Homo sapiens: one gene and its partner. The protein of the gene in region 1 purifies or fractionates together with the protein of each later gene. This does not show direct contact. Each region holds a gene or a part of one and is shown on either strand. Other genes may lie near its edges. The genes, in order: TRMT13 and OSER1.

Evidence for each region.
Region 2: the proteins of TRMT13 (region 1) and OSER1 purify together in Homo sapiens (affinity purification with mass spectrometry; 2 studies listed by BioGRID and IntAct, with this or other methods). This does not show direct contact.

Annotation. Positions count from the first base shown.
Region 1 is NC_000001.11:100,143,067-100,146,990, forward strand, and holds part of TRMT13 (tRNA:m(4)X modification enzyme TRM13 homolog), read left to right. Parts: intron 1-70; coding exon 71-143; exon of another isoform or gene 144-148; intron 149-1,002; coding exon 1,003-1,077; intron 1,078-3,460; coding exon of another isoform or gene 3,461-3,606; exon of another isoform or gene 3,607-3,924. UniProt on the Homo sapiens protein: tRNA methylase which 2'-O-methylates cytidine(4) in tRNA(Pro) and tRNA(Gly)(GCC), and adenosine(4) in tRNA(His).
Region 2 is NC_000020.11:44,197,113-44,201,036, reverse strand, and holds part of OSER1 (oxidative stress-responsive serine-rich protein 1), read left to right. Parts: intron 1-3,297; coding exon 3,298-3,924.

The DNA of each region.
Region 1 (3,924 bases):
ATCTTTTTATTTTCATAAAGCTTTTTTAAATGTAAGAAGTGATTATTACAATAATGTTCTGTTTGTGCAGGTGGATGGAAAACACAGAAAGAAAAATTCAGTGTTTGAAAGACTTCAAATTGATATTCAACACTTGTGTTTGAGTAAGTTGTGTAACTTTCCATTGGTCTACAAATAAATCATAACTGTTTTAAACTCTGAGGTTGCTTAGAAATCCAATCATGCAGAACTGTGCTTCAGGGAAAACAGTCAAATCAATTCATTGTTAATATAGAATGTTTTATATAATGTTTTTAAATAGATGTAAATTGAATTAAGGTTGAGAATTTTAAAAATTTTCAGTATCAAGTGGAAATGAAGTGTTATATTAGGGAAGAGTTTAAAAGTTTTATAATATGTACTTCTGTTGTTTCTTTGTCCTGTTTAAATTAATTTTGAGTCTGTTCAAACTATAAACTAGCCTTCTGCCTGCAGTTAACGTGACTTTACCTAAACCATGAAAGAAAATGAGATATTTCTCTGCCTAGCTAATGTGTAAAAGATACTTCCTAGAATTTTAAATTGTACAAAAGAAGTCATCACTGTGGGATTCATATTCCATACACAAAACACACACAGACACATACACACACAAACTCCTCAATCAACCTCTGTAGTGCCCTTTTTATACCTTTTCTATTTTTCAGATTATCCAAAGAAAATAATGCAAACATATCTTTGCAACCTCTTCCATTCACCAATTTTAATCCAGCCATGAAAAGCAACCCAGCATTTGTATAGAAATCAATGTATTTAAAATTATTTAGCTGAATATATTAACTTTCTGATGTTATGAACCCTAAACAAGTTCTTATGTTATATGTTGGGTTCCATAAAGTGATAATTTTTGTTTGAGTCTCTTTCAGGCTAAAATTCAGAGACTCTAATTAGTTCTTTCTTTTGGAAGGCCACATTAATATGTACTTTATTTCACTAGACAGTTAATTCTCATTTCCATTTCAGACAAGATTCCTGTGCTAAGAGAAGAAAAACTACCTGTGGTAGGAATTGGAAAGCATCTGTGTGGTATGGCAACAGGTACGTAAACATACTGATAATGTTTACATTAATGCATTAAGTTTTGGCCTAACCTGGCCCCAACCATTTCAGTGGTCTCTTTTGAATAGATATCTTATGTTTACAACTCAATAATCTTTATAGAGCACTGGCCCTGTGCTTTATTAGATGCATAGCTTTCCTATTTATCTGCTCATATTGGCCATTTTGCAGGATGAATTAAGAGTTTTGTATGTAAATACTGCATCACATTAGACCTTAAAGTTCTTTGGGTTAAATTTCAACCAGAAAAGGAAAATAAGACCATTTATGGAAACTGTATGATTCCACCTAGAAGCTACTGATTTTTTAGAGTAGTTGCTTAGAAAGAACTCAGAAACCTCTTCTACTAAAAGACTATTGTGTTTCAGGATTCTGGGGAAAAAGAAAAAAATAAATGTTAGACAAAAAAAAAAAATCTAAGATGTCTTGTCTTAGCACTTTGATCCATCAGATCTAGCATGGTAAAGTGGAAACAGCATGTGCTTTAGAATCAGATAGTCTAGCCTTCAGCTTTGTTGTGTAACCTTGTCAAATTACTTAACCTTTCTGAGCTTTGGTTACCTCATCTATAAAACAGAGATACTAATATATTAATAATTTACCGGGTTGCATGTAAAGTGTCTGGCACATAATAGTGCTCAATAAATGTTAATTATTGTTACATCATCTTCCTAACTTTTGCTAGTTTCATCATCTACCCATATGGATTACTTGGAGCATCCATAGATATTATTCATATTGGCTGGAAATGGCATTGAGTACTATATATTTGTGTTGGCCTTCATAGTTTTTAAGACTATAGTCATGTACAACATAACGATGATTTGGTCAACAATGGACTCATATATGACAGTGGTCCTATAAAATTATACCATATTTTTACTGTACCTTTTTTGTATTTAGATACACAAATACCATTGTGTTACAGTTGCCTACAGTATTCAGTAACATGCTGTACAGGTTTGTAGCTTAGGAGCAATAGGCTGTGCCATACACCCTAGGTGTGTAGTAGGCTACACTACACCATCTAGGTTTGTGTAGTACACTCTGATGTTCCTACAATGATGAAATCGCCTAATGCATTTCCCAAAACATACACCAATAGTTAAGCAATGCATGACTGTACTTTTGCATACCTTATCTCATTTAAGCCTCATAAAAGTCTTCTAAAGTAAACCAGTTCCATCCCGGGGGTAGGAGGGAGTACACTCTTTTGACCTACAGTGGCCATTTCTCATGTTCCACATAATTTTTTCCCTTGATTCACTGTATCTGAATCCTCCTTTTGTCTCTGCTGCAGTTGCTTACCCTTTTTGAAATTCCATTTTCTTCTCTTTTGCGATACTCTTATTTCCTGGTTCTTCCCCTACATCTATGCCATTCTTCTGTTTATTTCACAGTCTCCTTCCACTTCTGTCCTTAAAATACTAATATTCAGGCCAGGCACAGTGGCTTATGCCTGGAAACCCAACACTGGAGGCTGAGGTGAGATGATTGCTTGAGGCTAGGAGTTCAGGATTAGCTTGGGCACATAGGAAGACCCCATCTCTACAGAAATTTGTTGGGCACGATAGCTTGTGCATGTAGTCCCAGCTATTCAGGAGGCTGAGGTGGGAGGATCACTTGAGCCTAAGAGTCTGAGTCTGCAGTCAACTGGGATAGCACCACTGCACTGCAGCCTGGGTGACAGAGCAAGACCCTATCTCAATCGGTCAATCAATCTCAGACCCATCTGCTACACAACTAATGTGTCTTTCCCTTTAAACTCTTCGGTACTTCCTGATATAGTCCAAACTCTTTGACATAACGTTTTAGTCTCAATCTGGCTTCAGCCTTCCTCTCTTTACATTCCCTGTCTCCTACTTTGCTGTTCAGCAACATCAAACCCTGTGTGCTTTTCCATAGACTGTACTATTTCTACTATATCTGGAATTTCACCCCCATTCACCTACTCACCCAAACAAAACAACTGGTCAATTTTTACTCATCCTTCACCTCAGTTGTCACCACTCTCAGGGAGCTCCCTTAAATAAGATATGCCTCCTTGGTGTTATCATAATACCCTCTGCATATTTTTACCTTGTGGTATTTTAATTATCTGTTTATATATCTAATTCTTCCACCATGCTCTGAATTTTTTGAGTATATGGTATATACTTAGTACGATGCTTGCTATATAACAGGAACACAGTGAATATTTGAATGAATGAATAATCTTGGCTACCAATTTGCTGTGTTTCCTTGTCCCTTTCTGCATATGTGGCTTTGTCTTTTAAGTTCTTTATAAAAGATGAATTGAGATAAATTGCTAAAGCTCCTTCTAATTCTGAAATAACTTAATTCTTTTTTTTTTTTCTTCGAGACGGAGTCTCGCTCTGTCGCCCAGACTGGAGTGCAGTGGCGCAATCTCGGCTCACTGCAACCTCCGCCTCCCGGCTTCAAGCGATTCTCCTGCCTCAGCCTCCCGAATTGCTGGGACTACAGACTCGTGCCACCACGCCCGGCTAATTTTTGTATTTTTAGTAGAGACGGGATTTCACCGTGTTAGCCAGGAAGGTCTCCATCTCCTGACCTCGTGATCTGCCCACCTCAGCCGGCGTGAGCTACTGCGCCTGGCCTGAAATAACTTAATTCTTTTAATAATTTATCTGGTTATTCACATTTCTGAAAATCACTTACTTAAGTCAAATATGAATAAAACAATGACTAAATGTATTTTGTCAGAAAATAATAGTTTATGAAATAATAGATTAGCTATCACTTTCTGCAAATAATGGGTTTCTAATGTTTGTTGACTTAAATTCATATATTGAATTAAATTTACTA
Region 2 (3,924 bases), on another chromosome or scaffold:
TGTACTTTGCTTTCATTTATCTGAAAATGTCTTTATTTCTTCCTTGGTTTTGAAAGATAGAGTTGATATAGTTGACATTATATTTCTAGATTGACAGTTATTTTCTCTTAGCACTTAAATTAGGTACAGTTCATTGTCTTCTGGTTTCGTTACATTGGTATTGAAAAGCATACCTTCAATCCAATTGTTATTAATTTGGAAATAATCTTTCTAGTCTCTGGCTGCTTTTAAGATCTTCCTGTTGTCTTTGCTATTCTATAGTTTTGCTACAGAGTGTCTCTTATGTGGATTTCTTTTTATCCTGCTCCAGTGTATTTCCTGTGTTCATAGATTCTCTTATCAATTCAGAAAATTTCTTGGTCATTATGTCTATAAAAATCACTTGTCCTCTGTTCTCTGTATTCGTTTCTTCAGAAATTCCAGACTTACTCTGTCATCTCTCTTAACTTTTACATTTTTTCCAAATCCTTGTCTCTGTACTGCCTTTTAGGTCAGAGGTTGACAAACTTTTTTTGTAAAGCACCGTATGGTAAATTTTTTAGCCGTTGGAGGCCAAGAAGCAAAAATTCAAGGATATTAATAAGTGCTTAAATAAGAGAGAAAACTCCTACTCTACCCTGTTTGCCTGGGGTTGGCCGTCCTGGCTGGTGGACACATTCTGTCTTCAGTTGCTGAGACAGTCGCAGGATAGAGTGACTAGCCTGAAAGGAGAACCTTGTGGAATGGGTGGGTAGCAGGTAGTGCCAGGGTCAGTTCTACTTTCTGTCCCAGTGAGGCTCAGATCTCAGCATGCTCTTTTCTCCTCCAGAGATCCCAGCATTGGTTGGAGTCTTGAACTGAGATTCTGCCTCTCAATGATCAGCAGTTGCCAACAGTAGAGACCCAACATGTAGATGTTAGCTAGTGCGGGCGCTGGACAGTGGTGCAGCTTGTCTACTGGCCAGGAAGGCGGGCAGGGAGAATAGGGACAGGGGAGGATCCCCTAGCCTGGTCTGTGGCTCACAGTGCTAGCCCACTGGAGCAGTGTCCACAAGCTGTACAAAAACAGGCAGGGAGCCAGATCTGACCCACAGGCTGTAATTTGCTGGCCCCTGTTACAAATAATTCAGATTTATTTTCCCGTCAGTCATTCTTTCTTTAGCTGTGTGTACAAGTCCCCTCTTATCCATAGGGGATATGTTCCAAGAACCCCAGTGGACGCCTGAAACTGCAGACAATATCAAACCCATTTGCCATCAGTCAGAGCACGTTTTTGTTCATGTCTTCCACCCACACATTTAATGCCTTTTCCATCTTAACTAAGGACTTACATGCACTGTGGCTGTAACTTTCACATTTGAAGTGCAACAGCAAGTCTATCACAAATTTGTTTTTCCTTCTTCACAATTTTTCACATAGGAGATTCGTTCTTACCGTAGATCTTAGCAACCTCAGTATACGATTTATTTTTTTCCTTTCCTTATTAAGTCAAGAACTTTCACCTTTTTACTTAAAGAAAGCTGTCTTAGTTCATTTTCTGTTGCTGTAACTGAATACCTGAGACTGGGTAATTTTTAAAGAGACTTATTTCTTACATTTCGGGAGGCTGGGAAGTGTAAGAGCATGGCACCAGCATCTAGTGAGTGTATCATTGCTGCATCATAACATGGGGAAGGATATCACGTGGCAAGGGGGCTCGTGAGAAGTAGCCAAACCGGCTTTTATAACAGAGCCGTTCTTGTGATAACTATCCCTGTCCCTCAATAACCCTTTAATTCATTAATCTGTGGATGGATTAATCCATTCTTGAAGGCAGAGTCCTTTTGTGACCCAATCACCCCCAAAGGTCTCAGCACTGATGCATTCGGGACCAAGTTGACAACACATGAACTTTTGGGTGACACATTCTAACCACAGCAGAAGCACTTCGTGGCTTTTCTTGGTATACCCAAACTGCTAGCATCACTACTGTTATACTGTGGGGCCATTGTTAAGTAAAATAAGAGTTACTTGAACACAAGCACTGCAGTACCATGGTAGTTGATCTAATAACCAAGATGGCTACTAAATGACTAATGGGTAGGTAGCATATACAGTGTGGATACCCTGGACGAAGGGATGATTCACATCCCAGGTGGGACGGAGCAGGATGGTGCAAGATTTTGTCATGCCACTCACAGTGGGGCGCAATGTAAAACTTATGAATTGTTTATTTCTGGAATTTTTTATTTAATATTTTCAGACCATGGTTGACTGCAGGTAACTGAAACTGTAGAAAGCGAAACCATGGATAAGATGGGATTACTGTGTTCTGTTTAGCTTTTTAGTGTCTTGTTTGGTTCTTGTCTCTAATTCACTTAGCAGTTTTGAGTATCTTTTCTTTTCATTCAGTTCTTTATTTAATTTTATTTTATTTTATTTATTTATTTATTTATTTTTGAGACGGAGTCTCGCTCTGTTGCCCAGGCTGGAGTACAGTGGCGTGATCTCAGCTCACTGCAAGCTCTGCCTCCCAGATTCACGCCATTCTCCTGCCTCAGCCTCCCAAGTATCTGGGACTACAGGCGCCCACCACCACGCCCGGCTAATTTTTTGTATTTTTAGTAGAGACGGGGTTTCACCGCTTTAGCCAGGATGGTCTCAATCTCCTGACCTCGTGATCCACCTGCCTCGGCCTCCCAAAGTGCTGGGATTACAGGCGTGAGCCACCGCGCCTGGCTATTTAAATATTTTATAAATAGTTATCTTACATAGTGTGTCCAGTAATTCCCAGTATCTGAAAACCTCAGGGGTTGTAAATATTGTTAGTTTTTTGGTTTTGATTGATTGGCTGTTACCAATGATAGAAATGAATCAGAAATCTATTTAATAGTAATGGCATAATGGTCATTTGTAACGTTAGCCTCACAGTGGTTCTGAAGCTGCTATATTCAGGTTTAGGGCACAATATTTAGGCTTCACAGGATCGGTTTCAGTTGTATGTTTGAGGTGCTTCCCTCAGACCCACTGGTCAAAGGCTCCCAAGCTTAGAGTTGGAACAGGGCAGGTGTTCTGTCCCAAATGTTTGGCCCAGGTGATTCAGTTAAAAAATACCATTATCTCACCTCGTTCTATAGCTTGCTAATAAGATGATGTTGAAGTTGTTGAGACACAAAGACTTAGGCAGCATGAAAATGGAGGAAGGTGCATCTCTTGCAGGAAATTTATGAGCTTAGACTCATAAAGCTGAGGGAAGGTAAATTTCCTACTGTCATAAAGAATCTGTTTAGGACAGCTCCATATCCCAACATCTTCTTGTATATTTTTTTTCCTCTTTAGGTCTACAAGGAAGTCTTCACGAGGAGCAGTGAGAACTCAGCGTCGTCGACGTTCTAAGTCTCCTGTCCTTCATCCTCCAAAGTTTATACATTGCAGTACAATAGCGTCTTCTTCCAGCAGTCAACTCAAGCACAAAAGCCAGACTGACTCACCTGATGGCAGCAGTGGGCTGGGAATTTCATCCCCTAAAGAGTTCAGTGCAGGAGAAAGCTCTACTTCTCTCGATGCTAATCACACAGGGGCAGTCGTTGAGCCTTTGAGAACTTCTGTTCCAAGGCTCCCATCAGAGAGTAAGAAGGAAGACTCCTCTGACGCTACCCAAGTCCCCCAAGCAAGTCTCAAAGCCAGTGATCTCTCTGACTTTCAATCAGTTTCCAAGCTAAACCAGGGCAAGCCATGCACATGCATAGGCAAGGAATGCCAGTGTAAGAGATGGCATGATATGGAAGTGTATTCCTTTTCAGGCCTGCAGAGTGTCCCTCCCTTGGCTCCAGAACGAAGATCCACACTTGAGGACTACTCTCAGTCGCTGCACGCCAGAACTCTGTCTGGCTCTCCCCGATCCTGTTCTGAGCAAGCTCGAGTCTTCGTGGATGATGTGACCATTGAGGACCTGTCAGGCTACAT